Linked DNA regions of Homo sapiens: all the other regions are linked to region 2. Evidence: fine-mapped expression QTL. A gene starts in region 2. Each other region holds a variant in brackets. All regions are shown on one strand. Distances are from middle to middle. Region 1 overlaps PCBP1-AS1 (PCBP1 antisense RNA 1). Region 2 holds the start of PCBP1-AS1 (PCBP1 antisense RNA 1). Region 3 overlaps PCBP1-AS1 (PCBP1 antisense RNA 1).

Region 1 (10,451 bases), 120 kb after region 2:
AAGGGGAGGACGGAGAGCAGTAAGCGTGCTGGTTCTTCTTTTGGTCTGTTTAGCAACTTCCCATGACTTTTGAGCAAGGAACAGGTGTAACCCCTTGCACCCTGAGGTGTGCAGTTGACTACATATGCCTGTGGCCTCAAGGCCATGTAGAAATTGTCCCTGGTTCAGCCAAAGCAAATTCAAAACCAAAAGCAAATTCACTGACCACGGGGGAAAGAGTAGGAGATATTAAACAAGCAGCTCTGCCTGGCCTTCCACTCACATGGCCATGAGGCCCATCATTCAGCACATCATCTCGGCCCCTACTGCGTGCTGGGCACTGTGAGGAGCTTCTGCCTCCTGTCTCCTTCACGCTCCTTTCCTTTCCCCTCCATAGCTCAGCAAGGCCCACATTTTCCCGGTGAAGCCACAGAACCACAGGGAGAAACCCATGGACTTCGCCTCTCTCTCTAGGCAAGTGAATTTGGTGGCAAAGTCTCTTGGCAAATTCAAATTGTACTTGCTACAGTCTTTTCCTCAAGTAATTCTGGGTGCTTTCCAAACTTACCAGTTCCCTGAAGTACATGGGAGGAGGCAGGGAAGCTTCTCGGGGGAGGAGCAGCACCGGCAGGGAGGCCGAGGGGCAGCAGTGCGGACAGGGAGTCAGGTGACGTGAAAGGAAAGGTGGGTTGCAGGCTGGGCTCTTGCTGTCTGTGGGCTCCATTCAGAATCCCCCACTTCACCTAGGACACTCTGGCCTCCGTCCAGGCATCACTGCCATGGAAATCCCAGATACATTCAAGTCCTCTGTTAAACACCTGCCTCCACATCCCCTCCAGATCTTCTCTGTCCTCAAAAGGAGCTCTGCCCTTCAAGGGAGGGGCTGGGGGCTTTGCAGCTTTCTGTGCCTCTGGCCAAGGCTGATCCTCCTTCCTCCTGCCTGAGAATCCAACCTTAGCCTGGAGCAATCCCAGAGGAATATGGGTGTGGGAGTTTGTCGCGTGTGACCCACAGTCGGCTCTGGGACCCCTGCCCCAGGAGCTCTGGAGGACTGTCAGACACAGCTTGTTGCAGGGAAGCTAGTTGACAGAAGATGTAACAGGAGTGTGAACATGCCATCAGCCCATACCCCGACCTCCAGGAACAGCCTAGCCTTACGGTTCTGTGCCCTCCTCAGCCCAGGGACTCTTCACCCACCCAACATTGTCATTACCCAAAACTATTTCACCTCTGCTCTAAACAATTCCAAAATCCCCATCCTCTGATCCCAGCCTTCTTCCTGTCCAGAGTTCTCATCCACAACTCCTGCCACCCCAGGGTGAATGGCGAAGCCCTCCACCAACATGGCAGCCCACAGAGGAGCAGACTGGAGAGAAAGAAAATGAGTTCAGTTTCGCTGATAGATCTGAAAAATATACATTGGGCAGGGCCATCAGGTTTTGGAGAGCCTTTTGAGGGCCCTGCTCAAGGAAGAGCTGGGCTTGGGGTTCAGATCCAGGTGTGCTCAGATCATACCAGTTCCTATGAGCTGATTGTTAAATCTTCAGGAATTTCATGAACCAATGGTTAAACCCAGCTATTATGAAAAATTAAATTATAAATTAAATTATATAAACTTACAATTAAATGAATTATATTAAGGCAAAAATAATAAATTTTCAAAAACCATCACTTCCTAATAATTTTTTTTTTTTTGAGATGGAGTTTCACTCTTGTTGCTCAGGCTGGAGTGCAATGGCACGATCTCAGCTCATTGCAACCTCCGCCTCCCAGGTCCAAGGGATTCTCCTGCCTCAGCCTCCTGAGTAGCTGGGAAAACAGGCATGCACCACCATGCCTGGCTAATTTTGTATTGTTATTAGAGACAGAGTTTCTCCTTGTTGGTCAGGCTGGTCTCGAACTCCTGACGTCAGGTGATCTGCCCGCCTCGGTCTCCCAAAGTGTTGGGATTACAGGCATGAGCCACCATGCCTGGCAATAATTTTATATTTTATTATTCTTTATTCTTTTAAGATTATGTACATCTATTACATCTGTGGAAATACTATATAATGTTGTGTTACTGTGCTTTTTCCCCAAGTCTGCATTCAGTGACATCATATTGGTGGATTGAAATCAGCCACAGTGGGAATATTTACACCACAGAAGTGGGCAGCAACCACCACAAATCAGGGCTTTATTCATTATTTGGTTGACTATCTAGACTTAAGAAGGTTATGGAGAAAATGCTAATAATGCACATTAAACTTAAATGTATGTTTTGCCAATGGCCATTGCATTGTGAATGGCACAGAAAAATGAAGGAAATATTCTTCCAGTATTCAAAAACTATTCTCTGCTTCAGTAAAGAAATTGCTAACACCATTGACAAACAAGTAAAGTTCTGGCCAGGTGCAGTGGCTCTTGCCTGTGATCCCAGCACTTTGGGAGGTCCAGGCGGGAGGATTGCTCGAGGCCAGGAGTCCAAGACCAGCCTGGGCAATATAACTAAACCAGTTCTCTACAAAAAATAAAAAAGTTAGCTGGGCGTGGTGTGCACTATCTGAGGCAGGAGGATCTCTTGAGCCCAGGCGTTTGTGGTTACAGTGAGCTATGAACATTCCACTGCACTCCAAGTTCTGGGCAACCCATTCTGTAAAAAAAAAACAACAAGTGAAGTTCCAACATCTGTCTTTCTGGCTTCACTTTTTTCTTGCTAGTTGGTACAAACAAAAATATCAGTTAACATTCATGTTGGAACTACATTCATTTATCAGTTACAACTGTAGGCTGGTTATAGATTCAGCAGGTTGGCAAAAATCAATGAAAGCATCCTGTAAGACCCAACTGGCCATATGCAATTTACAGTAAAGAGTAGTATATATTTTTTATTATTTGTAAATTATTAGCCATCCTTTATGTCAATAAAATTTATCATAAATGTATGTATGTGTATATATGCATGCATTTTCCCCAGAGAGCTCATTGTTAATTAAACATCTACCAGCATACTACTGGGCAGGTTGCCTTAGTCTGAGGAGTGGCCAGAGATTTGACTCTGGAAAGATTCCCAGAAGAGGGTGGGAATGGCTGATGGAAAGAGGCTACTGAGGAGGTTGGAGGGGGCCTCAGGTGGAAGGATTAGCCTGGCCAGGCACAGAGTCCCTGAAAAGGGATGAGAAGTGAAGAAAACCTGGGATAGGGTGGAGTGAGAGCTCGCCATTTCTCTGCCAAGCAGGACGCAAGCCATCTTCTGCAAGCAGGAGGTGGAGAAGTGAGGAAGGGTGAAGGTTTGGCCTGAGTAGAGTAGTCAGTGTGGGGCCAAGAAAAGGGACCAGGGAGGACGAGGAAGAGTAAGGAGGACTGCAGAACACTCATGAAAACCGAGAGGACGGCAGGCCCGGCGAATGGCTCACGCCTGTAATCCCAGCACTTTAGGAGGCTGAGGCAGGCAGATCACCTGAGGTCAGGAGTTCCAGATCAGTCCTGCGAACGTGGTGAAACCCCGTCTCTACTAAAATTACAAAAAATAGCCGGGCATGGTGGCGGGAGCCTGTAATCCCAGCTACTTGGGAAGCTGAGGCAGGAGAATCACTTGAACCTGGGAGACAGACGTTGCAGTGAGCCGAGATCACGCCACTGCACTCCAGCCTGGGCGACAGAGCAAGACTCCATCTTGAAAAAAAAAAAAAGGGCCGGGCACGGTGGCTCACATCTGTAATCCCATAACTTTGGGAGGCTGAGGCAGGAGGATCACGAGGTCAAGAGTTGGAGACCAGCCTGACCAACATAGTGAAACTCCATGTCTACTAAAAATACAAAAAATTAGCCAGGCGTGGTGGTGGGCGCCTATAATCTCAGCGACTGGGGAGGCTGAGGCAGGAGAATCTCTTGAACCCGGGAGGCGGAGGTTGCAGTGAGCCGAGATCGCGCCACTGCACTCCAGCCTGGGTGACAGTGTGAGACTCCGTCTCAAAAAAAAAAAATGGTAAAGAAAACCTAGAAGACAGCAACCGAATCACAGCCATGAAAGCAAGAGGGTCGAGTGTAACCAGGTGCAGTACTGGCTAAGCCCCATGGTACGGATTGCTTGAATAATCTCCCAGGACAATCCTAGGAGGAAACCAAGGCTTGAAAGAATTAAGTCATTTGTCCACAGCTTGCAGCCAGTTAGTGGCTGAGTCAGGAGTTGAATTTAGGCAGCCTGGCCCTCTTGACAAGGCCAAAGACTGCGCAGAGGCACCTTTCTCCTCAGCAAAGCTCCCCCAGATGATGCAAGTTCAAATGCTCCAGGACGGAGATTGGCAGGGCTGGC[T/G]TGGCTACATGTCAAGGGCTTGTGGGCATCCTAAGGCTGGCAAAGCCGCCTCACATCTCCGGCCTCCCCAAACATTCTTGCACCTGATGCTCTTAGCACCCCGCACTGTCTGTTGAATCTAATTATAATGAATCTAGACTTGCATTTTTAAATATCTTTGTTATTTTACCTTCAGATAATTCATTCTTATTGTGTTTTTAAATAGTAAAGTATGTGACAGATTGGAAATTTACAAAACGATCCTGCGCCTTAGAACATTTGAGAGGCAGGGTCCTAACGTTCTATTCTAATCACATTGATCCCTTGCTGGGAGCCCTTAGTCATCCCTGCTGGCTATAGCAGTTTTCCAAATGGTGGGTGGGGATCAATTAGTGGGTTGGGAGATTAGTTTTCAGTGTCATTAAAAGAGTTAAAAAAGAAGTGGCCCCAAATAGAAAATATCAGAGTATATTACACATAGTAAATACATTTTGTTTTAGCTACATATATCTTCATGGATATGTGTACTGGATTATGATGAAAAATGTCTTTCTTACTATGAGTACAGTAAAAAAAAGCAACTTTTTTTTTTTGAGGCAGAGTCTTACTCTGTCACCCAAGCTGGAGTCCAGTGACATGATCTCAGCTCACTGCAACCTCCACCTCCCAGGTTCAAGCAATTCTCCTGCCTCAGCCTCCCAAGTAGCTGGGATTGCAGGTGCCCACCACCACACTTGGCAAATTTTTGTATTTTTAGTAGAGACAGGGTTTCACCATGTTGGCCAGGCTGGTCTCGAACTCCTGACCTCAGGTGATCTGCCCGCCTCGGCCTTCCAAAGTGTTGGGATTACAGGCATGAGCCACTGTGCCCGGCCAAAAAAAGGCAACTTTGAATGCTGCTCATCTGCAGTTAAAGAGCACTGCCAGGCCTGATATTCAAAGCCATCGAGGCAGAAGCAATTGCTGAGGAAGATCAGGCAATGCTTCATGGGAAAAAGGTGAGGACAGCCTGGGCTGGAGGATGTGCAGGTTGTGGATGAGACCAAAGGCCAAGAAACACCGGGACTTTCATGTTTAGACTGTACCAGTGCTGCAACTCAGAGAGGAGCTGGGCCTGGCAGTCCCTTATGATAGCACCTTAGAGGAGGGAGACCCTGAGTTTGCTAGGGAAATCAAAGGAGACTTCCTGGAGGTGGTAGTGTCTTAGTTGACTTCTCAGTGTTTGCCAGGAGAACAGGGGTGTCAGAGGGCTCATCTGGCTGAGTGGCTTGTGAAAAGGTATGAGAAAGCCCGTCCTGTTTGGGGAGCTACACGCCATTTTGTATAGGTAGAGCATGAACTAGGGAGGGGGACTTCGTGAGTCTTGTTGGGTGTCAAGATTTTATTTTGGGATGAAGAGCCATGGAGGAATTTTGAGCAGAATGGCATGAGCAGACTTACATCTTTGGAAGATGACTCTGGTGGCCTGAGGAGGGTGGATTAATGGAGAGGAGGCAGGAGGCAAGGAGTCCTGTAGGATGACTACCGACCTCAGCAGGGTGCCCTGAGGCCAGGGTGTGAAGAGGCATGGAGGCAGGAGAGAGACTCAGGAGGAGGAGCTGAGGGCACTGGCGACCCAGCAGTCCAGGTGGGGCCGTGAGAAAGGGGTGGAGGTGAGGAAGCCCCCTGTGTCTGTGACTCCGAGGGCTGGCTAGATAGTAGTGCCATTGCCAGATAAAGAACACAGAGAGCCAGGTGTGGTGGCTCATGCCTGTAATCCTGGCACTTTGGGAGGCCAAGGCGGGAGGATTGCTTGAGCCCAGGAGTTAGAGACCAGCCTGGGCAATGTAGGGAGACCCTGTCTTTACCAAAAAAAAAAAAAAATTTAAGAGAATTAGGCAGATGTGGTGGTGTGCACCTCTGATCCCCTCTAAGGTGGAACTGGAGCTGAGGTGGGAGGATTGCTTCAGCCCGGGAGGTCAAGGCTTCAGGGAGCCATGGCATTTCAGCCTAGGTGACGAAACAAACAAAAAACACAGGAGGCAGAGGGTGTCTGGTGAGAAGACAGCATGTTCACTGTTGAAAGTGGACTCGTAGGCAGACATGTAAGGTGGGCAGCTGGGGCAGTGGGGAGAGGATGGGTAAGCGGTGCAGAGAGGGGTGTCCCTGGCCTGGAGAGTGTGTGGAATGAGGGGGAATGGCCTGTAGACAGAGCCTCAGGGAGCCACATCTGTGAGTATCCAGGGAGAGAGGAACCCACAAAGGACAGAGGGGAGTGGTCGTAGTGGCAGAAGACCCAGAAACTTGGGATACAGAAACCAAAGGCGCAGAGAAGACCTAGGAGGAAAACAGCAGTGCGAGGGCTTCAGAAGGCCAGAGTCCTTGAGGCTGAGAGGGCCAGACTGCAGCCTCGGGGAACCGCCAATGTCCCTGGCAAGGCTGACGGCAGAGGGCGGTGAGGCTTTGTGTGTGAATGGAGGTAACACCATGAGGCAGAGTGTAAGCGGGCTGCCTCGGACCATGCCACACCGTGTGCAAATTAGAAAGGGGCACCCCTTCCTCCAGGCAGATTCAACCCCTCGTTCTGGCACATAGGCTTGGCAAGAGGAGTGCAGGCTATGCCTCAGCCTCCACCTGCCCCACAGTGGGGCATCTGTGCACCTTGGCCCTGTGAGTGTGGACCAACCCTTCTAGAAACTGCCTGTCAAGGAAGGCAACAAGTGGTCATTGACCAAGGAGATACAGGATCATGTGAGGGTTTTCTTTTTTAAGATGTGAAAGTCTCATGAGTGCTAATTTGGATAAAGGCAGGGAACCCACGGAGAGTGAGAATTTGGAGATTCAGGAAAAGAGTGTACATGACACGAGGCGGGAGGGTGCAAGGCTGGAGCGGCTGCCCTGGGAGACGCCCATGCTGCAGGGGAGAGTCCGTTCAGCAGCCGCCACACAGACCAGGGACACTGAGCCACAGTCGGGACTGCTTGTCCCCAGCGACCAGGGGTTCCAGTGCCCAAGACTCAGGCCCATGCAGACGGCCCAGGAGTGGGCCAAGAGCTGGGCAGACCAGGCTGGGGAGGGTCTTGGCACAGCCTTTGCTTACTTATTATTTACTTTTTACTATGGGAAATTTTCAAACACACCCCAAAGTGGTGAGAAACTCAAATAAACCCTCTTAGATCTATTTTCTAGCTTTAACAATAATTAATATTGCCAATCTTATTTTATGGACCAGTTTTTTTTGTGTTTGTTTGCTTTCCAAGACAGGGTCTCACTGTGTCATCCAGGCTGGAGTGCAGTGGTGCAATCTCGGCTCACCACGACCTCCACCTCCTGGGTTCAAGTGATTCTCCTACTTCATCCTCCCAAGTAGCTGGGACTACAGGCATGTGCCACCATCCTCTGCTAATTTTTGTCTTTTTAGTAGAGACAGGGTGTTTTCATGTTGGCCTTGAACTCCTGGCCTCAAGCGATCTACCCACCTTGGCCTCCCAAAGTGCTGGAATTACAAGTGTGAGCCACCATGCCTGGTCGATGTACCAGTTTTTAAAGCACCTTTTAAAAAACTTAAAATTTTAATAGACTTTATTTTTAGAGTAGTTTTAGATTTCACAGCAAAACTGAGTGAAAGGTACAGAAGTTTCCTATTTATTCCCTATTAAAAAACTTTATTTGGAAATTATTTTTATTTTTTATTTTTTTGAGACAGAGTCTTGCTCTGTCACCCAGGCTGGAGTGCAGTGGCTCTATCTTAGCTCACTGCAACCTTCGCCTTCTGGGTTCAAGCAATTCTCCTGCCTCAACCTACCAAATAGCCAGGACTACAGGCATGCGCCACCACGCCCAACTAATTTTTGTAATTTTTAGTAGAGCCAGGGTTTCACCATGTTGGCCAGGCTGGTCTGGAACTCCTGACCTCAGGTGATCCACCCACCTCAGCCTCCCAAAGTGTTGGGATTACAGGCATGAGCCACCATGCCTGGCCTATTTGGAAATAATTTTAAGCTTACAGAAAATGGCAAGAACAAGTTTTCTTAATTTGAAATAACTTTTTCTTATTAGAGGATATATTTACAGAATATCTGTAGAAGAAAGTTAAGATCATTCATGATTCTACTACCCCAAAATAACCACTGTCATTGTTTTGGTGTCTTTCTTCCTAGTCTTTTTTCTGTGTTCATAGACACTGTTTCCATTTTACCCAGAGACTATCCCAATCTCTCCGAGGCATCCTATCCTGTGCGTCCACATGCACTAACTCATTCTCAGGGCCTTCACTATCCACATCCCCCGCTCAGATGGTTTGCCTTTAGCAACAAAAATTAATCCAAGATTTTGGTCTGTGGATGCCCTTGTTCCCTGGTTTCAGGGCTACTGCATGTTTCCCCTGTAATATTCCTTTCATGTTTGTTTTTCTCTGGTGATACTGGCTGATACCTGGTTGCGGGAGTTGCCTGAGGCTCCTTGGGCTGCCATCTTGCCCGGAAGACTCCAGTGTGCCCCGCACCTCCTATGCTCATCCCTGAGTAGCTAGGTTGGAGTCTGTCTCTCTTACTTATCTGTGAACTCTGTGAGGGTAGGGCGCAGGTCTGATTCATCTCTCCAAGTGAGGCGGTGTTGGCCTCAGTAAGTATGTATGGAATTGAATCAACCCACCTATTTGGCATTGTCCATTCCTGTCTATGGCACAGACTCTCTGAGTGCCTGACACTGATTTACAGCCACGAGCATGGTGTCTGGCACACAGTAGGTGCTCAATACATGTGTGTGGATGGTGCGCCCAGCCACCTGGAGATTTCTATACATGTAAGGGCTCTGCTGTTTTTCCGTTTCTCTCTCTCCTGCCTCTCCCACATCTTCTGGATCACTTTGACATGCCAGAGGGAAGGTACCCCCTCTCTGTCGCCGCCCCCCATCTTCTGTATGTTAGGAGCAAAGCTAGGTTGGCAGTTGATTGAAAAGACACAACTTCCTGTGCTGAGGATATTTGATAGGTTTTAATTGCTCACAATACTAGTTATCATTAGAGACAATTCAAACTATTTCCAGATTAGTTCAAAGCTGCCTTTGAGGTATTTAAGTTGGACAGAAGCCCTCTATGTGTTCAGCTCTAAGCCAAGTTTCCTGGTGTCATTAGAAGCCCACTTGTAGTTGGAGATTACCCAATCTGAATGTTTTGATTGCCTGAATATTTCACTAATTGCAGGGGTGTTTGTCAAAAGTGACTTAATGTCCCCAAAGCTGTCTGGAGACCTGTGTTACAAGTCCCACTCCCAACCTCAGTTAAGCAGAGGGGACCCTGAAGAGGGGATGGGAGGAAGGGAATCTGCATAGGGTCTTTCCTTAGAGCCAGCCCCTCTTGCCAGGCAGGGCCCTGGCCCTCCGTGGCAAGGATGGGGCAGGAAAGGATGACGGCTTGGTCTAGGGTGGGGGCACCAGCAATTGGGAAAAAGGCAGAAACCCAATTCGGAGGGCTGGGCCCTGAGGAGGTGACTGAGAAGGCCTTCAGGACATCTTAGTAATCTTCATCTTTGATTGAAAGATAAAAACAGGGGAGAACCGGTTTTGGCAAATTGGACTTCTAGGAGTTAGTCAGCAACTTGGTCTGACCAACTCTTGGTTGGTCCTGGCCTTGACCCCAGGCCTGGAGGCTTGCAATGGCACTGGGGCCAGGACCACTGCTCCCCAAACACCTCCAGGACCCCCCAGGGTTGGGACTTGCATTAAGCATTTTGCTGCCTCCTGACATAGTGGATTTGGCTGGTGGGCTGCGCTGGGCCACTTTGGTTAGAGGGGTTCTGAGCTAGGGGCAAAGAAGGGTAGGAGGGAGACCCAAATGGGAAGAACAGGTTCTGGAACAGTGGCAAGCTGGGGAAGGGCCCTGCAGGCAGGAGAGCTCTGTCCTTCAGCGGTGACACTGGCCTACTGGGTGAGGAGTGTGGCAGGAACGCTCATGTTGAGGAGGTTTGGCAGGGACCAAGATGGGGGTCCAGTCAAGGTCAAGCTGTCCTGCCCGTGTGCCCTTGGCCATGACTGACTGTGAATGCTGGGTGGTGCCCAGCTGGGTGGTAGGAGCAGGCATGGGTGGTCTGGGGGTTTAGGTTTGGGGATAAGGAAACTGCAGGTGCCTTGGATTTCCAAATGTATCTCGCTGTGGTCAAAGCTCTTGGCTCCTGTGCAAGCTGCCACTGTGTTCTGGGAAGTCGTCAGGCCGCAGGAACAA
Region 2 (10,451 bases):
TAAACAAGCATAAGGATTAGCATACATATATAATTTATAAATAAACAAGTTATAAAGACATATGCTAAAGACTTGCTATGGAAGGCCTATACTTTAAGAAAATGTTTGGAGACCACCGATTTTCAGTATGACGCTCAAAGCCTTTGTTACGGCATTCAATGCTGGTGATAATTTAGCCTTAAGTAATTTTACGGCTTCCTTCACCTCCTCTTCCTCCCTTTACCACAGATCATACTCTTAACTATAATCAGCTACTAGACATCTTCCAAGCGCACCACAACAGCACGATGTAGTTCAGAGTACTTTGCCCACAGTAGCTGCTCAATCAAATCTGTTAAATAACCTCCTTACAGCATTATTGTCACTCCGTCAGCCCTGGACTGTTCCTCCTTGACTTCTCTCAAGGGCACTCTCCTGATTTCTCTCCTGCTGCTTCAACTATTCCTTCTGTCCTCACTGGCTGCCTCTTCCATATACACTTTACAAATATTTACTGAGTCCCTGCTATGTGTCAGGTATGGTGACAGGTACTAGGGTACCCAGTGAATAAGAAAACTAGGTCCTTCAACCCAACGAAATACCCCAAAACTCCATCTCTAGTCCCTTCCCCTCATTTACCTCTGTTCCTATGCAGCTTTGACTTCACCTCAGTCTTATTTCTAGCTACTTGTTGACTATTTCTGTCTGCATATACTTCTATCACCGTGCCTGAATTCATTGCTCCCCCTTTTTACATCTTCCTCTGGCCTCCACACCCAGTTTCAATATCTCTGCCATTGCCTAGTTCCTTTCCTTGCATTCCTATTGATACCACTTGCCAGCCTATATTAGAACCTGCTTCTTCCTTGAGGTAGTTTGCCAACTGCTATTCTTGCTTTTCATCTTTCCAAGTAGCAATTCGTCCTATGCCTTGCTGCCTAAATCATTATTTTACAAATTATTGCCAGCTTTGCCCAGTATAAGATGCAGTGGGGAGGAGGTTCAGGAAAGTCTGAGGCCTACTTTTCTTTCTTTTTTCTTTTTTGAGACAGGGTCTTGCTCTGTCGCTCAGGCTGAGTGCATTGGTATGATCACAGGCCACTGCAGCCTCGACCTCCCAGGTGCAGGGCAATCCTCCCACTTTAGCCTCCCAAGTAGCTGGAACTACAGGTGCACACCACCACACTTGTCTAATTTTTTTTTCTTTTTTTTTTTTTTTTGTAGAGACGAGGTTTCACCATGTTGCCCAGGTTGGTCTCAAACTCCTGAGCTCAAGTGATCTGCCCACCTCGGCCTCCCAGTGTTGGTATTACAGGCATGAGCCACTGCACCTGGCCTAATTTTTGGTATTAAGACCTGCTTTTCATAGGGCATTCAAACTGCTTCACCCAGCATTTCAGGGATTCTTCAAAGACTATTTGGCTTGGTGTTTGAGGGTTCAAGCTTATATCCCCTCTTGCCTTGATTTGGATTTGTGCTTATTGTTCCCAGAAGGCATGGTACCCACTTCTGGGTCTTCACTAGGTCCCCCTCCCTCCCCACCTGTCTTGGCCTCTCAGTCCAACTCATTTAATACACATTGCTTTGTTTCCTACCTTTTAATCATCTGTCTTCTCTGCCCAGATTTTGTGGCCAACCCTCAGCCCCCAGAAATGGGCCTTTTGGCTTTTTATAATCGAGTACACTGAAATTTACTGTGTTCTAAGCACTGTTCTGTTTTATATACATGCTTTCATTTTATTTTCACAAGCCCAGAAGGTGTTAATTTTAACATCTTCATTTATAGAGATTAATTTGTCCAAAGCCATGAATAGGAGGCAGAACTCAAATTTGAAAGCAAGTCTAACTCCAGAATTTGGGCTCCTTTCAGTGACTGCTTGCCTAACCCTGCGTGACCACATAATAAGCCTCAACGAATATTTACTGTGGATAATACTCCCCTCCCACAGGAACTTCTCTTTGCCATGAGTGATCTCCCATAGTGCCTGGGGTTTGAACTACCCACTTTGGCACCTACTGGTCTATTGTCTGATACTATTGTTTCTTCTTTCCCTCATCTCAGGCTCTATTTTCTCATACTATTGTTTCTAATGTTGCCTTTGCCTAGCAGTTTTCCTTCTCTCATCAGGTCAGGGATAGTCCTATTGGCTGACGTGGGCGTGAGGGTGCTACGGCCTTCACAGCGGGATCTTCCTCCTCCACTGAAGACAATCAGTGGCATTCAAATCTAAGACTCCTTTGGGGTGTTTGTTAAAAATACAGCTGATTAGTTTTGGGGTGGGACAGAGGAATCTGCATCTTTAACACTCAGATCATTCTTAGGTTATAGTCAGTGCATCAGTCTACATTCCCGCCTTGTGAAGACTGACCCATTTAGGCAGGATTATTTCCTGGTATAGGGATTCTCTAAACATTGCACACAGCTGAAGAATTGGAAACTGGGCCTCTTTTGTTTCTGGATACACCACTTGGCAGGTGTAATAACATCCTCTGACAGGCTGCTTGCCACAGGTGCATGCTTGACACGTGCGTCTCGTTGGTACCGTCCCCTCCCCCCTTCCCACCCCTGCTGCCCAACCAAGACCCCTCTAGTCCCACCACCACCCGGCAGCTGTTGCCCTCCTCCAAGCCCCCAATCCTCCCCGGCCCACTGCCCTCCCTTCCTTTCCTTTCCCTGCCCCCACACCCCTTCCCCAGGCTCCTCCCACCCCAGAATATTTTTTTGTTCCTAAGTTTATCCTGTGAGGTGGGGGTGGGGGAACTGGTTAGATGGAGAGGACGCTCTGCCATTTAGAGGTCCTACTGAGTGGGCACACCTTTTCCCCTCGAGAAAACCTTGTTTCTACCAGAGAAATGGGCAGAGGCCTCTCTCTGGAACTTGAACCTCTCTGTCCCTGGAAACATCCCAAAGCAGGCCCAGCCTGCCATGTTCCTTTGTTGGGGCACAGAGGGAATGGAATCTTACCGATAAGGTGAGAAGAGCTTGAGAGAATACCAAGGACGGGCCCACCCTTCTCCCTCCTCCCTCCAAACACCTCAGGCTAAAAGGGGAGGGAAAAAAAAGGCACCAACAAAGAGTTTAAGACAGCAATTCCCAGCTTTTTCAAATATGAAGCATTTTTTAACCAATCCGTTTTTTAATTCTTAAATTCTTGACATTACAGAACTAAACTGAAATTTATTAACATTCCACTCTTACATTTCTTATCGACAAACAGAAATAAAATTCATGAGCCAAAAAACCCAAAACAAAACTAAAAACAGGGAAAAGCTTATAAAACTAAATATGGATCCCAGCATTAACAGCTGAACAGAGAATGTGATTTTTAAATTCTTAGCGGATGATAAAGTTGTGTAGAAACTGAACACTTACAAATTATTTAAAACCTGGAATCACTGACCAGAAATTACACAGTTGGATCATGGGAGAACAGCAGAAAGGGGTTATTGAGGGAACCTACACTGTTCTAGCTGCACCCCATGCCCTTCTCAGAGGAAAGCCTGGCATTGATTAGATACTGGGCCAGACTAATACTGGCAGCAGAGCCAGTGATAGTAACCTGCCTACCAGAGGAGCCTTCCACTGGGTTGGCAATTTTGATCTGGGCCCCGGACATCTGGCGGATCTCATTAATGTTGGCGCCTTGGCGCCCGATTATGCAGCCAATTAAGTTATTTGGAATGGTGAGTTCATGGGTGGTTTGAGTAGATGCATCCAAACTTGCCCAATAGCCTTTCACCTCTGGAGAGCTGGAGTCAATTCCGGCGAATCCGGTCCCGCCGTGCATCATGGCAAAGTGAGACTGTTGTCTTGCCACCTGGTTCAGCTTGGCCAGATCGAGCGGAGAAATGGTGTGTTGTCCTTGAATCGAGTAGGCATCTAGAGGTGGTCCCTCCAGGTCATGGGTGGCATGGGGGTAGCCCGCAGCGTCGCTGCACCGATCTTGGCCGCCCGCGCAGATGACTGGGGAGCTGGCCGGCATGGGCTGGTACGGAATGGTCATGACTCTCCCTTGCGGAGACTGGGAGAGCGTCTCCAGCATGACCAGGCAAATCTGCTTGACACACTCGGTGACAGACTGCGGCACGCCAGCGATGGTGATGGCCCGCTCGGTGGAGTTGGGCAGCATATCCCCCGCCACCTGGACCTGCGCCCCCGTACTCTCGCGGATCTCTTTGATCTTACACCCGCCTTTCCCAATCAGGGAGCCGCACTGGGTGGCCGGCACCACCAGCCTCAGGGTGACCGGGGGCCTGCTGGCCGCGGTACTGTTGGTCATGGAGCTGTTGATATCTTCCTCCAGCTTGTCGATGATCATAGCGAAAGCCTTAAAGATGGCATTGGTGGGGCCGGTCAGAGTGATGATTCTCTCCGGACAATTCCCCTCCGAGATGTTGATCCGCGCGCCACTCTCCTCGCGGATCCTCTTAACCGACTCCCCTTTCTTCCCAATGATGCTTCCTACTTCCTTTCCGTGCATAAGAAGCCGAATGGTGAGAGTCACATTTAGTCCACTTTCAGTCACACCGGCATCCATGGCGAGCGGCGGGCGGCGTTCGGGGGAGTTGGGCTCGTTACGTGGTCAAGTCTTTGGCGGCTGGCGGGGGGAGGGGAGGTGTAGGCCCAAAACTGCCGGCGCGAGGCGAGCGAGGGCCGCGGGAGCGAGCGGGAGCGGGCGGGAGGCCGCAGCGTAGTCGCAGGGGCGGGCGGCGGCGGCGGAGGGGGCGAGCGGGGCCGGGAGCGGCGGGCGGGCGGGTGGGCGAGGGCGCGGCGGTGGCGACTCCGGCGGCAGCCTCGGCGGTCTGGGCGGGGCGGGAAGCCCGCTTTCAACCCCGCGTACCCTCTGACCCCGGAAGTGCTTGCTGCGCAGGACCCCTTGAAAAAAAATGAGGACCCGTCTTTTTTAGGTCACAAGATTGCGCCAACCCTTACATGGTCCTTAAAAAAAAAACCTTCTGACACTGCAGTAGTGAAAATGAAGCGCACGATGGGCGGAAGCTGTGAGTCCGGCAAAGTTTTAAAATGATGACGTATTTTATTAACTCTAACGGCACTGGCGGGTGACTGAAAATACTAGTGCTGTGTATGCGGGATAGACATTATTTTCCTGCCCTACATGAGGGGCTCGTGCGCGGAACGACATGGGCAGCCCCGGCGGAAACTGCAGGCACAAGCCGGGACGCCGCGGGTTTAAAACATGCGCGTGAGGTGACCAGAGCGCGTGCGCGAGGGTGTGGGGGGATGGGAGGGGCAGCAGCCCTCTTCCGGGGGGGAGGGGCGGCGAGGCGAGGCCTGCGGAGCGGGTGCGCGCGGGCGGGCACGTGGGGCCCTTTCGTCCCCGGCGTCCGGGCGCCCTGCATGGATCCCCCACCCCAGCTCCTGCTCCCCGGCGGCGGCCGGTGGGCAGAAAGACCGAAACCCACTCACGGCCGCCTGCCGAATCGCGGCTCTGCTGTTTGTGGGGCGTGCTAGAAACGTGGTCCTAAAAAGAATGGCGTCCATTTACATAATGCTTTGTTTGCGTTTCGCAAGTTTCTTTCGGTTAAAGCCACAGAAACCCCACCTCCTGCCCTTGTGTCGTTTCCACCGCGGCACCCTTTTCCGACATTAGAAACAATAGTGTACGCCTGTGGAGGCCTCGTTTGTTCAGGGGCTGCCGGCCAGGGCTTCAGGACGTTTCTGCGGCTTTCCCCGCGCGGCCTGGGCTCCCGCGGCTGCTTTTCGGGCCCATGGGCGCAGCCACTGCGCCAGGCTCAAGGGGGGCGGCCCCGTCAGGGCCCGCCATCTTGGAAGGCCTTTTTTGCCGGTTCTTCCCGCTGAGGAAGTGTCGCTCAAGACGCTGGCCTATGAGTTGTGATTTCTGCCTTTTCCCCTTCCTCCTTGGGCTAAGCCAGACCAGAAAGGGCCCCGTGCGCAACGTGCTTCACAATCTCTCAGGGAAAGCGGCTAACGTGGCGCTACTCCGCCTCCCCTGTTCCTTACCCTTGGGGCGGCCGCCATGTTTCCTGAACACAAAATGGCGACACGTGGTTAGCATTCGTCGCCAACGAGAAATTGGGGTCGGCCCGAAAGCTCTAGAATGCACCCCTCTTCCTCCCCGGGGCCTTCCACCTCCGCGAGTTTTATGACTTAAAAAAGCCCACAGGCTGGTCTGAAGGTCGGAGGCCTAATTTTAACGCGTTTTCCTCCCTTTAATTTGAAACGGGAACGCGAATGACTGTAAAATGTGGGCACAATATTTAATCTCTCGCCTTTTTAAAGCTTAATAGTGGATAATAGGGGGGCAGTATCAAGGGATAATTTGGGTCCCCACAGTACCAAAGCATTTAGAAACCTCTGTTTAATTTAAGGAATGAGATAAGTTACTGCTTTTCTAGACTTCCTAGCATGGGCTGTTGTGCTGGAGAGAACGAGAGCTACGAAGAGACTACAGTGCCTCTGACTTTTTCATAGGACAGTTGGCCGGTGAATCTTATTAATAGTTTACCACAATTAAGTGTTCATTTTTAGTCTAGAAGGGACAGGCGTTTATTGTGCATTGGCCAGTGCCAGCACATCCGATGCAAGGCAGTTCACCGTATTCTATCTTTAATTTTTACCATGGTCCTCTGAGGTAGGTGTTCTTATCTCTCTCTCTCTCTCTCTCTTTTAAACAGAGGAAGACAAACATAAAGATGAAGTGCTTAATTCAAGGTCACACAATGTCGGGGATGGACCTCCAGATTTCCTTACTGGTGAGCACATTTTCCAGGTTTTTCTGTAAATCAGGGTTTTGGAATTTAAATACTATTTAAAACGTTTAGGTGAGCTTGTCATTTAAATGAGCCCTTCAGGTAATCTTTTGTTGTGCAGTCAGCCCCTTTTTGTATCAGGCAGCTCCCAGCTTTTCCTGATAAGAGCTACACCTGTAACGGGCGGGCGGGCTGAAATGCTGTCTTATGCAGTGTCTGGTGAGGATAGGGAGGGGGAAGTGATTCAGCCTGCCCAGAGGCTCAGGTGTCTGTCGGTCTGGCCCTGTCTGTGGCACATTTGAGCCTACCTGCCTCTGGGGGAGCAAATGGTTTTTTGTATGACTGACTTGCTTCCGTCAGCTCCCCATGGGCTTGACTCTTGCCTCCCCCACCCCAGCACCCCAACCAGGTAAAAATAAATTCGCTCTGGCACCAAGCCTCCATTTCTCTGCAGAGATTGACAGAGCATGACAGAGTGTTAGGTCAGTCTGTGGACTCTTCAGTTCAATGCAACACGTAGCTAGTGGGCCAAGCAACAAACTGGTGCCTGAGCAGGGCTCTGATTGTGTGTGGATATGAGAGACAAAGAGAAGGGCTTTTTGCCTTTAACTTATGTTACTATCAGATATATTTTCCAAAGTGGTTTCATGTTAGTTTATATAACTCTACGAACATTTAATAGGTACATAACAGCAACGATGACAGTTACAGCACTAGGTGCTTACTGTGTGCTGGGCATTGTTCTAAGCCTTATTTTATGTATTCAGTGTCTCACATTTTTAAAAAAACCACTAAGAAACAAATTTTACATTATGATTTAAGACATTTATGCACACATATGTAACAAAATTTTTGCAAAACAATATTTGTTACTACATGCAGTATATGTACTTGGGTAATTTCTATTCTTTATATATAAAAAGGACACATTATAAAGTGATTAAAAACCCATTAATAAGTTGTGACCGCTTATACACATTTAATCCTCACAAAACCTCCTGAAATGGGTGGTGATATTAGGTCAGTTTTACAGAGGTACAGATTAGTGAAGGAATTTATCCAAGGTCACACAGCTATTAAGTGGTAAAGCAAGGATTTGAATTTAGGCAATCTGAGTCCAGAGACTCCATTCTTAACCACTAAACTGGATGTGGTCTCTGCAGAGAGTCCTGTCTCATAGGGAGACAGAATAGATGAGGGAATTAAAAATATTACCAAGTGTTAGAAACTCAGGTGACAACAAAAGGACTAAATTGCATATAATCAAGGAATGTTCAAACAAAGCCTTCTTCTGGTCTTTTAAATCTAACTTATTTCTTTTCTCTAGAGAAAATTTTATCTGTCAGGTCTTTCTTTCCAAGACTACCTACTGAAATATTTCCATAATTTCCTGTTATGTACTCCTGGGACTTAGTGCACCTCCTCAGTGAAGCCTTCCCTTTCCCAGCTTCCCCAGCTCTTAGCCTCCCTCCTTCCCCGAGAGTCTTAACAGTTTCTCCCTTCGGTAGCCCACGTTTGGACGTTGGTTAAATTGTAATGTGTCTTGGGGTTGGTAACATGTCATACAGACACCTTGGGTGATGCTGTGGTCTGGCAAAGAGGTCATTGGACCTTGGAATCTGAGGCTCTGGGCCCTAGTCCTAGCTCTGCCCCTGTCTAGCTCTGAGACTTCTACAACTCATCTGTCAGGGTTTCAGTTCTCCCTTTTATAAAGCAAGAGATTAAATGATCTCTAAGGGTCCTTCTACTTATGTCCAGGGACTGATGATATTTGATGACTTTGGTTATTTTTCTTTGGCGGGGTGGGAGGTTTATGTAAATGTTTTCTGCACTTTTGGTAAAATCTCCACTCCCTTCCTCAGACCTGCATTATCTTGTGGATACCTGAGTGAATTCCACACCACCCATTTTATAGATGAAACCACTGAGACATGGAGCAATTGACTGAGTAGTCACTGCCCCACCCCTGCCTGGAGCCTCACACATGACTCGCCTCCTCTCAGTGACCACAGGTTGGTTGAGGGGTTTAACAAGGCTAAGAAGGTGAGTCAGGTTTAGACTTTGGAAGTTGAACCACAGGATTTATGCTACATACAGAGGAATGATTGTTGCTTCCTCTTATGTTAAGTTGGTATGTCACGTAAAACCTTTCAGAGTGCTTTCACGTTACTTGTTTAATCATCACAGACAACTTTGCCAGTAGGGTCTTATGCCCATTTTACAGAAGAGCCATTTTTGGATTAGAGGAGTGAAGTGACTTGCCCAACGTTACACAGCCTGTTAGAATTTGAGCTGAACCTCTTGACTCTTAGTTATGGATTACACCTTTCCATGGCTTCTGATGCTTTTGATATGGACTTTGATGTGTGGGATAGCTTTACCTTAAACTCAAAAGGCTTTCTAGCCAGTTACTATTTTTCTGTCCCCAAACAGCCAATGCATTTACCTTAAGTTCCTAACTCTTGTTTTAGAAAATCTCTTCCCTCTTTTCCCTGATGTTTACATTTATGGGTTTGGAAGGGGTGGGAAGGATTCCTCAATAAGACTCTTATGTTCTCTGGGGGCAGGGACCACATTTATTTTCTGTAACCTACCTGGTTCAGCAAGCATACTATGGTTGTTTAATTTTTTTATTTTTAATTTTTATTTATTTTTTGAGAGAAGGTCTTGCTCTGTCACCCATGCTGGAGTGTAGTGGCTCCATCGTAGCTCACTGCCACCTCTATCCCCCAGGCTCAAGCAATCCTCCCACCTCAGCCTCCTCAGTAACTGGGACTGCAGGTGTGTGCCCACCATGCCGGCTGATTTTTAAGTTAAATTAATTTATGTATTTATTTTTGAGACAGAGTTTCGCGCTTGTTGCCCAGGATGGAGTGCAGTGGCGCGATCCTGGCTCACCACAACCACTGCCTCCCAGGTTCAAGCGATTCTCCTGCCTCAGCCTCTTGAGTAGCTGGGATTACAGGCATGTGCCGCCACACCCGGCTGATTGTGTATTTTTAGTAGAGACGGAGTTTCTCCATGTTGGTCAGGCTGGCCTCGAACTCCTGACCTCAGGTGATCTGCCTGCCCCGGCCTCCCAAAGTTCTGGGATTATAGGTGTGAGCCACCGCACCCGGCCTAATTTTTTTGTTTTTATTTTTAGTAGAGATGAGGTCTTGCTGTGTTGCTCAGGTTGGTTTTGAATTCCTGAGCTCAAGTGATTCTTCTGCCTCAGCCTCCCAAAGTCCTGGGATTTCTGGTGTGAGTCACCATGCCTGGCCTATAGCTATTTAAAGTTGCCGTACTGGCCAAGTACTGTGGATGAGGTGGTGAGGCGGGTAGACCATCTGAGGTCAGGAGTTCGAGACCAGCCTGACCAACATGGCAAAACTGTGTCTCTACTAAAAATACACACACACACACAAATTAGCTGGGCGTGATGGTGCGTGCCTGTAATCCCAGCTACTCGGGAGGCTGAGGCATGTGAATGTGAACCTGGGAGGCAGAGGTTGCAGTGAGCTGAGATGGTGCCACTGTACTCCAGCCTGGGAGACAGAGTGAGACTCTGTCTCAAAAAATAAAAATAAAAAATTGCCCTACTAACGTAGCTTTTTTTTTTAAGTGGTTTCTTTTTCTCTCTTAAGATTTATCTTTCTATTTCTCTTTTATTTAAAGTAATAGTAGTCTGGGCACGGTGGTTCACACCTGTAATCCCAGCATTTTGGGAGGCTGAAGCAGGAGGATCACTTGAGTCCAGG
Region 3 (10,451 bases), 76 kb after region 2:
CTCAAACTCCTGACCTCAAGTCTGCCTGCCTTCGCCTCCCAAAGTGCTGGGATTACAGACATGAGCCTGGCCTGGATGATCTTTTTAATGTGTTGTTGAATTTGGTTTGCTGGTCTTGCTTTGTCACCCAGGCTGGAGTGCAGTGGCATAATCTTGGTTTACTGCAGGCCTTAAACTCCTGGGCTCAAGTAATCCTCCTGTCTCAGTCTTTTAAAGTGCTGGTATTACAGGTGTGAGCCACATTGCACCTGGCCTTATTGAGGATTTTTGTATCTATGCTGATGTAGTCCCATTGGTCTATAATTTTCTTTTCTTGTAGTGTCCTTGTCTGGCTATTGTTCACGAGCATGTTGTTCAATTTCTTTGTATTTGTGAAATTTTCCAAAATTCTTTTTATTATTTCTAGTTTCATACCATTGTGGTCAGAAAAGATACTTGGTATGATTTCAGTCTTCTAAAGTTTATTAAGACTCGTTTTGTGGCCTAACATGTGAGTTGTCCTCAAGAATGTTCCATGTGCACTTGGGAAGAATGTATTTTCTGCTGCTGTTGGATGGAATGTTCTTTATGTCTGTTAGTTTCCTTTGGTCTAAAGTGTAGTTCAAGTTTGATGTTTCCTTTTTGATTTTCTGGCTTTATTGAAAGTGGACTATTGAAGTCTCCTACTATTATTATTATTATGGAAATGGAGTCCTGCTTTGTCACCCAGGCTGGAGTGCAGTGGCAAAATCTCGGCTCACTGAAACCTCCTCCTCCCGGGTTCGAGTGATTCTCCTCCCTCAGCCTCCTGAGTAGCTGAGATTACAGGTGGGAGCCACCATGTCCAGCTAATTTTTGTATTTTTAGTAGAGATGTGATTTCGCCATGTTGGCCAGGCTGGTCTTGAACCCTTGAGTTCCAGTGATCTGCCCACGTCAGCCTCCCAAAGTGCTGGGGTTACAGGTGTGAGCCACCACACCTGGCCTAAAGTCCCCTACTATTATTGTATTATAATCTCTCTCTCTCTAGATGTATTGATATTTGCCTTATGTATCTAGAAGCTTTGATGTTGGATGTATTTACAGTTGTCCCTTGGTGTGGGATTGCTTCCAGTACCTCTGTGTGTAACAAAAGCTGCACCATTCAAGTCCCACAGTTGCCCTGCGAAACCTCTGTATATGAAAAGTTGGCCCTCCATGTACATGGGTTTCCCATCCTGTGAGTACTGTATTTTTGATCCTCATTTGGTTGGAAAAAATCTGCATATAAGTGGACCTGTGCAGTTCAAACCCGTGTTGTTCAAGGGTCAGCTGTATATTTACAGTTGTTATATTGTCTTGATAAATTGATCCTCTGTCATTATGTAATGATGTTCTTTGTCTTGTTTTACAGTTTTTACTTAGTCTGTTTTAAGTATAGCTACCCCTGCTCTCTTTGGTTTCCATTTGCCTGAAATGTCTTTTTCTAGCCTTTCACTTTCATTCTATGTGTGTTCTTAAATGTGAAGTTAATCTTCATAGGCCACATATAGTTGGGTCTGTTTTTAAATTTTTGATAGTATCCAACCTAATGGGTGTGAGGTGATAATTCTTTGTGGTTTTGATTTGCATTTCTCTAATGATTAGTGATGTTGAGCATCTTTACATATGATTGTTGGCCATTTGTGTCCCTTCTTTGGAGACTATTCAAAGTCCTTTACCCATTTTAAAAATGAAGGCATTTGCCCTTTGTTGTTGAGTTGTAGGAATTTTAAAAATATATTCTGGATAGTAAATCCTTTTCAGATATAAGATTTGCAAATGTTTTTTCCCATTCTGTGGGTTGTCTTTTCACTCTTTTTCTTTTTCTTTTTTTTTTTTTTTTTTTTTTGAGACAAGGTCTTGCTCTATTATCACTGGAGTACAATGGCGTGAATGTGGCTCACTGCAGTCTCGACCTTCCTGGCTCAAGGGATGCTCCCACCTCAGCCTCCCAAATAGCTGGGACTATAGACACATGTCACCACATCTGGCTAATTTTTTATTTTTTGTAGAGATGAGATTTCACCATATTACCCAGGCTGTTCTTGAACTCCTAGGCTCAAGTGATTTGTCTGCCTCAGCCTCCCAAAGTGTTAGGATTACAGGTGTGAGCCACTGCACCCGGCTGCCTTTTCACTCCTAATTGTATCCTCTGTTGCACAGAAATTTTTAAGTTTGATGTAGTCCCATATGTCTCCTTTTTTTTCCCCATGCTTTTTATGATTTCTAGCATCTTTTTGTGGGCTTATTGTGCTTGTATATCTTCTTTGGAGAAATGTCTGTTCAATTCCTTTGCCCTTTTTTGAATGGGGTTGTTTGGTTTTTCTGTTGTGGAATATTTAAATTTCTCTATGTATCCTCAATGTTAAGCCATACTAGAGATATGCTTTTCAAATATTTTCCCCCATTCTGTGCATCACCTTTTTTACTCTGCTGAAAGTGCTGTTTGATGCAAAAAAGTGTTTAATTTTCATGAGGTCCAATATATCTATTTTTTCTTTTGTTGCCTGTGCCTTGGGTGTTATATTCAAGAAATCATTGACAAATCCAATGATATGCTCTTCTACACTCTTAAAAATTATAGACAACCCCAAATAACTTTTATTTAGTGGTTTTAACAATATTTACCATGTCTGAAATATGATAAACATTAAAATTAGTATTTTGGAAAAATGCCATATTAGAAACTGATGATTTAAAAGTAACAACAATGAATCCATTACATGTGAACATACTGTTTTTTTGTTTGTTTGTTTGTTTGTTTTGAGACGGAGTTTCACTCTTTTGCCCAGGCTGGAGTGCAGTGGTGCGATTGCAGCTCACTGTAGTCTTCGCCTCCCAGGCTCAAGTGATTCTCATGCCTCAGCCTCCTGAGTAGCTGGGATTACAGGTGCTCACCACCACACCCGGCTAATTTTTGTAGAGATGGGGTTTCACCGTATTGGCCAGGCTGGTCTTGAACTCCAGACTTCAAGTGATCCACCCACCTTGGCCTCCCAAAGTGCTGGGATTACGGGCATGAGCCACTGCACCAGGCCAACATACTTTTTATAAAAACAGCTGTCTTCTCTAAAACAACAAAAAAATGTAGATAATAGTAGTATCATTTTATAGTTTTGCAACTCTCTTTAATGTTTGGCTTAATAGAAGATAGTTGGATTCTCGTATCTGTTTTTGTATTCAGTCTGTTGTGTATGTTGTTTTGATTGAAGTAGATGAAGGAAATCCAGCTACATACAGATTTGGAGTTGGAAAAAATAGTATTTTAATAACCTTTTTAGATCATGGTGGATACTCTTCTTTGTTATGTCATCAAAATTAGACAAATGGCAGTTTCTGAAAAATTAGTTGTAATGTGTGTAAAAAATTAGTTGAATCCATATCAGTGAACTCATACTTTTCTATATTAAACTTCATTGCTCTATCTTGCACTTTGAATGGGTCTTTTATTCATGCCTGATTTTGTAACATCATGCATTCGTCATTTTGAAAATGATGGTTCAGTGAATTATTCACATCTTCTAAATGTAGGCACATTTCAGTCTATAATATCAAAAACATATTTGTCAGTGTTACCACTGATTTCATCAGAAAAGTCTTGAGGTGTTAAGAAGTCTTTAGGTATCTACCAGCATGGATACACATTTTCCAAAATTTTAAATCTTCACTTGACAGCTCAAATTTTACAGTTGGCAACAAATACTGTCAGTTGTTTTCTATGAGGTGACAGGTTCACTTAATTCATTTTTGAGAAAATGTTTGCCAAATACCCAAGTCTGAATAATCATAGTTTGTTAGTCATTTTTTTCCTAATAAAAATGATGTTCTATGAAAAAGCAAGTAGTCAGCTTGTAATTCAAACAATCAGGTAAGTGCTTCCAGTACTTAGGTATTCAGCAGAAGTGCTTTGTGTACAGAGTATTAATAAGACATGTATTCAAGGGATAAGTTTTAATAAAATTAATAATTATTACTCTATCATGGACATTTTTACATTAAGTTTGCCTTTCTGTTGAACTGCAAGTACATGGGGGTGAAGACTGTGACTCCTGGTGCAGTTTGGTGCCTCTTCATTGACTTAAGGCTCTAGAAGGCACCAAATACTGTTGCTTTTGCATCATCAGTGCAAATGTCCGCAAAGTGAATGCTGCAGAAAAACTCTTGGTATTATTATAAAAATGATGTTGACCTTGGCCGGGCGCGGTGGCTCACGCCTGTAATCCCAGCACTTTGGGAGGCCGAGGTGGGCGGATCATGAGGTTGGGAGATTGAGACCATTCTGGCGAACACGGTAAAACCCTGTCTCTACTAAAAATACAAAAAATTAGCCGGGCGTGGTGGCGGGTGCCTGTAGTCCCAGCTACTCGGGAGGCTGAGGCAGGAGCATGGCATGAACCCGGGAGGCGGAGCTTGCAGTGAGCCGAGATTGCACTACTGCACTCCACCCTGGGCCACAGAGCGAGACTCATCTCAAAAAAAAAAAAAAATGATGTTGATCTCTTGGATCCCCCGGGAAGGGTCTTGGGGACCCAGGAGTCCAGGGATCATAATTTGAGAGCCATGGCCTATACGACCATGGGTACTAATAGCACATGCCTCCAGCACCCTCCATCAGCCTCCCTCGGCCTCATTTTCCTCAGTTGTAAAGGGAGGCCTGGGCAGGCTCTGTTTCTTCACACTGTTGGACCCTGTTTGCTAGCCCCCGAAGCTGCTTCTCCCTTAGCGGTGATGCTGCTTTCAGCTCCTGCTTTTCCTCCCTCTCTCATGCCTCCCTTTCTCTCCGTGGCTCCTCTTCCCCTCACTCTTTACAGGTTGGCATTCTTCTTGTTTCGTCTCCTCCTCCTTTCCCTGGATGATCTTATTTCCTCCCTGGTCTTTAACCATCACCTGCAGGCTGACAGCTCCCAAATCTCTATCTTCAATCCAGATGTCTGTCCCGGGCTCCAGTTTTGTGGTTCCACCTGAGACCTTTCCACCTATATGCTTTACAGGCAAGTCAAAGTCAGCATGTCTAAACTGGTTTCTTCGTCTTCCCCTACACATTGCTTCCTCTTCCAGAATAGACAGTCTTGGTTAATCCATCATCTGCTCAAATGCTTAAGCCAGAATCCCAGGAGTCCTCCTCCCCTTATCTGGCTCCCTCCCTTCCCTCATCTGCTCACCTGGCCTATCAGTTCTGCCTCCTAAACATTTTCCCAATCTCTCCCTGCTCTCCAGCCCCACCACCACTGCCTCAGCTCAGGCGCTCATCCCTTCTCACCTAAACGATTGCAAGGGTCTTCTCCCTGGCCCCCTGCCCCCTGTTTTCAACCTGTACTCTACAGTTCTGGTTGGAAACCACA[A/G]GAGTTATCTTCTCACACTTTTTTTTTTTAACTTTTAATTTAGGTTCAGGGGTACATGTGCAAGTTTGTTATATAGTTAAACTCGTGTCACAGGGGTTTGTTGTACAGATTATTTCATCACTCAGGTACTAAGCCTAGTACCCAAGAGTTATTTTTTTTGCTCCTTTCCCTTTTCCCACACCCCCCACCCTCCACCCTCAAGGAGGTCCCAGTGTGTATTGCTCCCCTCTGTGTTCATGAGTTCTCATCATTTAGCTCCCACTTGTAAGTGAGAACATGTGGTAGTTGGTTTTCTGTTCCTGCATTAGTTTGCTAAGGATAATGTGTTTTTCATTAAGTAAATACATATCGAGTACTTACCATACCAGGCTCTGTGCAGGCTGTGGGAATACAACATAGGACATAACAGATACTGTCCTGACCTCCAGCACTCACAGCATATGAAGGAGGAGAGAAAAGGACAGGGCACAGGTCATTAGGACCCAGTGCAGTGGGGAAAGATGGCAGAGGTGCTTGGGAACCCCTAGAAGTTTTGACTGAGGGCTGAGTCTGAGGGTGTTCAGGGAGCACTTCCTGGAGGAAGCAGCTCTCATGTTCAGACTGCAGCCTGGGTGGGAGTTAACTAAAAGAGATGGGAGTGTTGTGGTGAAAAACGTTACTGGAAAGTTTGATCATTTAATTTCCCTGTTAAATACTTCTCTTGTGAGCTTCACCACTGCCTGCAGGATCAAGTCCAAATTCCTTATCATGAAACACAACCTTTGTGGCCTCGTTGTCTGCCACTCCCCTGTATTCATTGTCATCAGCTTGAACTGCTTTCAGTTCCCCCCAACGCTGCTTGCTCACTCTCTCAGCTCCAGGCCTTTGCACATGCAGTTCCTTGTGCCCTCCACCCTTGCCACGCAAATCCCTACTGCCTATCTATCCAACTGTGAATCACCCCACGTCAGCTGTTCAGGAGACCTTCCTGGCCCCTCCCCTGTAGACTTTGTGGCTCCCTCTCTTGTGCTTCCCACCTGTACACACACCTGGACTCTTGTGCCCTTATCACGTCCTTAGAGCTTTTCCACTTGTGTATCTCCCGTGCCCCTACTTGACAGTGTGGGAACTAGACCCCTGTCTAGTTCACATACCCTCATCCCATGAGCATTTTGGGCATCCCCAGGGTGTGTGACTCTCCTGTGCTAGTGGACAAGGTTAGACAATTACCATTACCTTTTCGTCTTTTCCCCTCCTCCAGCTCTGTGACTTCCCTTTGCCCCTACCACACCCCATGTAGCTATCAGTTTTGCTGGACACGGCCACACCCATCAGGCACCCCATACCTGCTGGGAGTCACGGACACTCCTATAGCAGCAGTGCTGTGGGGCTGCTGGTCCCTGCATTGCCTTATAGAGCCGTGGGGCTTCGCCCTACAGATACATCTAAATTACAAATACCAGTCCAGCCCAGAATCAGTTCTTGCTGTTGAACGCAACTGTCTCTGGGTCAGCTTGTTGTGCCTGTTTTCCTTCTTCCCTTAGAAAGAGTTATTTCCTTCAGAACCTTTCTACCCCTCATGAAAATAGGCTTCCCAAAGGTCTGCCCACCAGCCAACTAGACAGATGTGGCCTGCATTGTCCCCCTGGAGGCAAAGGATGTGTGGGTATTTATTTATTTAAGATAGTAAGTTATGGCCAGGTGTGGTGGCTCACGCCTGTAATCCCAGCACTTTGGGAGGCCGAGGCGGGTGGATCACCTGAAGCCAGGAGTTTGAGACCAGCCTGGCCAACATGGTAAACCCTGCCTCCACTAAAAAATACAAAAATTAGCTGGGCATGGTGGTGCATGCCTGTAATCCCAGCTACTCGGGAGGCTGAGGCAGGAGAATCGCTTGAACCCAGGAGGCGGAGGTTGCAGTGAGCCAAGATCGTGCCACTGCACTCCAGCCTGGGCAACAGAGCAAGACTCCATCTCTAAAATAAATAAATAAATAAATAAATAAATAAATAAGACAATAAATTATATAAGCAGTGCTGAATACAGCTTCATCATTTAAAAATCCAAACAGTTTGGAAATATATAGACAAGTATATAAATGCTCTTCTTGCACCCCTTCCCCCATCCTAAAGCCTACCATACAGGTAGGCACTGTTAATTATTTGGTGGAAATGTTTACACTTTTTGCTTTGCATTTACACATGTGAGTGGCAGGGATAGTATCTGAGAAATTAATTTTTTTCTCTCCTGAATTTTCTCTTTTTCTGCCCTCACATTTATGGAGCTCATTACCTCCAGAGCAGCTTTTCAGGTTAGAAAACTGAATTTATCTTCAGGCATCTCTGGCTTTTGTGTGCTGAAAGCTTAAGCATTTAGGGCAACTCCAGGATTTGCTGAGTGGCTCATCAAAGGATGAGGATTCTCTTGCACAGACTGAATGCCTTGACTGGAAACGATGGAAGAAGGATTTCCTTGGGAGTGGAAAGGACCCCAACCCTTTTAGCCCTGTCCTCCCCAGGCTGGCTGGGGGCAGGACTACAATCCCAGAAGGAGGCAGTCATATGGTAGGGCTAGCCAGGGGTGTCCAGTCTTTTGGCTTCCCTGGGCCACATTGGAAGAAGAAGCATTGTCTGGGCCACACCTAAAATACACTAACACAATAGTTGATGAACTTAAAAAAAAAAAAACACACAAAAACATTTCATAATGTTTTAAGAAAGTTTACAAATTTGCATTGGGCCACATTCAAAGCTGTCCTGGGCTGCATGCGGCCCACAGGCTGTGGGTTGGACAAGGTTGGACTAGGCCGTGAAGACACAGGCAACCTGATCCAAGGTTCCTGGCTGCCTCTGCTGCCAGACCTGGCCTCTGCTGACTTCATCGGCAGCCTCATGCCTGGCACTTCTGAATATTCTGGAGAATTCAGACATACCTGAAATTAAGTTTTCTATTGTCAGGATTGAAGCTTACCATAATCAATGAGTTGAGTTATAGACTAAAATTTGATTTCTTGCACACCTGGATTTGTGAATGGAGATTCGTTCCTATGGCTTGTATTATATTACTCATATTCTGCCACTTAAAAAAATTAATAAGAAATCTTGAAAAATTTTCCACAGCAGCGGAAATGAATGAATGAGATAGATTTATCTCATTCAAAAGATGAATATTATTATTAAAAAAAAAATAGACCGGGCACGGTGGCTCATGCCTATAATCCCAGTACTTTGGGAGGCTGAGGTGGGCAGATCACTTGAGGTCAGGAGTTCAAGACCAGCCTGGCCAACATAGTGAAACCCTGTCGCTACTAAAAATGCAAAAATTAGCCAGGCGTGATGGAGCGTACCTGTAGTCCCAGCTACTCGGGAGACTGAGGCACGAGAATTGCATGAACCCAGGAGGCAGAGGTTGCAGTGAGCTGAGATCACACCACTGCACTCCATCCTGGGTGACAAAGTGAGACTCTTTGTCGCTAAATAAATAAATAAAAATACATACTCATAGTAGGAGACTCAAAACAATATCAAAGGAGAAAGCAAAAGTTCCCTGGTCCTCCAGTCCCACTCCCTAGATATAATGAGCTTCTTGAGGGATCTAGAAACTTTCTGTGCAGTTAAAGTCACATAGCTATTTATACATAGCTCTTTTTATATGCAAATAAGCTCAAATGATATATACTTTTCTGCATGTGTATCATCTATATTATAAAATTTAGCACAATTTTTCTATTATATATATATTCATATTTATTACTTATTATTAAATACGCTCTACTTATTTAAGTAGATATAGTTCTTTTTTTTTTTGAGGCAGGGTTTCGTTCTTGTTGCCCATGCCGGAGTGCAATGGTGCGATCTTGGCTTACCACAACCTGCGCCTCCAGGGTTCAAGCAATTCTGCCTCAGCCTCCCAAGTAGCTGGAATTACAGGCATGCGCCAACACGCCCGGCTCATTTTGTATTTTTTTAAAGTAGAAACGGAGTTTCTCCATGTTGGTTAGGCTGGTCTAGGACTCCTGACCTCAGGTGATCCACCCGCCTCAGCCTCCCAAGGTGCTGGGATTACAGGCGTGAGCAACCTGCGCCCGGCTTAAGTAGATAGCGTTCTACTTCATTTCTTTCAATGGCTACCCAGTATTTCACAGAATGGATATGTCACATGTATTTAACCAATGATTGGCATTTAAATTCCCAGATTTTTAGCTAGCATTTATTGACCACAGACTATGTTGTTGGAATATGGTAAGTTACATAATCTTTGTAGCAGCCCAAGAGATAGGTCCTTTTACTGCCTGTATGTCACAATGAAGGAACTCTGTTGCAAAGAGGTCAATAACTTTCCCAAGATCACATACCTGGTAGGTGGTAGATCTGGGACTTGAACCCAGGCAGCCAGGCCCCAACCCAAGGCTGCACTCTGGATTAGTATGCCACAGCCCCTCTGTAGACCCCGAGCACTTGTGCTGGTATAGCCATAAAATACACTCATAGCAATGTACCTGCTAGGTCAAGGGTATGTGCATTTTACACATTAATAGCGCTAAATGATCAGGATGTTATTTTATGTAAAGGGTAATGGGCTTCTTTTTATGACCAAGTACAGATCCCACTTGCTTCCTGAGAACAGAGGGGCTGCTGATGTTCTTGTACCCTGAGGCTCTATGAAGTAAGGGTGTTCTCTCTGCTTTGGCCAGGGCTTCAGCTCTGAATCCTATCTGGCCCTCTTCCCTCTGGGCTGGACTGGGCTCCCATGAGTCTTGGTGTCCTCTTATGCCCTCTAACCGAGGCCAAGGCCACTGGGTGCTGGAGAAGGCTGCCCCTGTACCCTCTTGGTCTCCTAAGTTTGAAGGTACCTCCCAGCTAGAAGCCACCTAGATCCCATTTTCTTTCCATCTGCAAGAGGGAAGATTTACACCCACCTAAGGAAACAGAATTGGCCTCCTTTGCCTCCTCATTTGCAGCTCCTACACCTAACCGTAGGGGGCCCCACTGTGGGACCTCCAGGCCTTGGTCCTCCCAGACCTTTGCGGAGGTGGGAGGTAAGATTGTGTGTCCTGGCTTCTCTGTGGCTGTGGCTTTTATAGGACTGTATCAGTGGTTCTCAAACAGGGACAGTTTTACCCCCCAGCCCC

The links. PIP is the estimated chance that this variant, and not a neighbour inherited with it, causes the effect. A credible set is the group of variants that fine-mapping cannot tell apart.
Region 1: its variant is the best candidate, but not a certain one, in a credible set for the expression of PCBP1-AS1 in nasal epithelium (TOPMed, PIP 0.57).
Region 3: its variant is the best candidate, but not a certain one, in a credible set for the expression of PCBP1-AS1 in whole blood (TOPMed, PIP 0.79).

The regions. Positions count from the first base shown.
Region 1 is chr2:69,965,561-69,976,011 of GRCh38, reverse strand. All of the region lies in intron 9 of PCBP1-AS1 (PCBP1 antisense RNA 1), which reads left to right. It also overlaps a transcript of ASPRV1 not described here. Among named protein-coding and RNA genes, the nearest start is that of ASPRV1, 9.2 kb to the right of the region's middle. RefSeq lists enhancers at 1-277, 2,982-3,859. The variant T/G (reference allele first, on the strand shown) is at 4,274.
Region 2 is chr2:70,081,810-70,092,260 of GRCh38, reverse strand. PCBP1-AS1 (PCBP1 antisense RNA 1) reads left to right here and starts at 5,246. Exons shown (of 11, transcript NR_033872.1): 1 at 5,246-5,283; 2 at 6,637-6,714; 3 at 8,574-8,723. PCBP1 (poly(rC) binding protein 1) reads right to left here and starts at 4,784. Exons shown (of 1, transcript NM_006196.4): 1 at 3,058-4,784. The coding sequence starts at 4,517. The coding sequence ends at 3,447. It also overlaps a transcript of ASPRV1 not described here. RefSeq lists silencers at 2,442-2,531, 2,622-2,671, 4,698-4,757, 5,208-5,357 and enhancers at 3,480-3,646, 3,718-4,362, 5,568-5,777, 5,818-5,907, 6,048-6,187.
Region 3 is chr2:70,006,194-70,016,644 of GRCh38, reverse strand. All of the region lies in intron 7 of PCBP1-AS1 (PCBP1 antisense RNA 1), which reads left to right. It also overlaps a transcript of ASPRV1 not described here. Among named protein-coding and RNA genes, the nearest start is that of ASPRV1, 50 kb to the right of the region's middle. RefSeq lists an enhancer at 6,024-6,093. The variant A/G (reference allele first, on the strand shown) is at 5,342.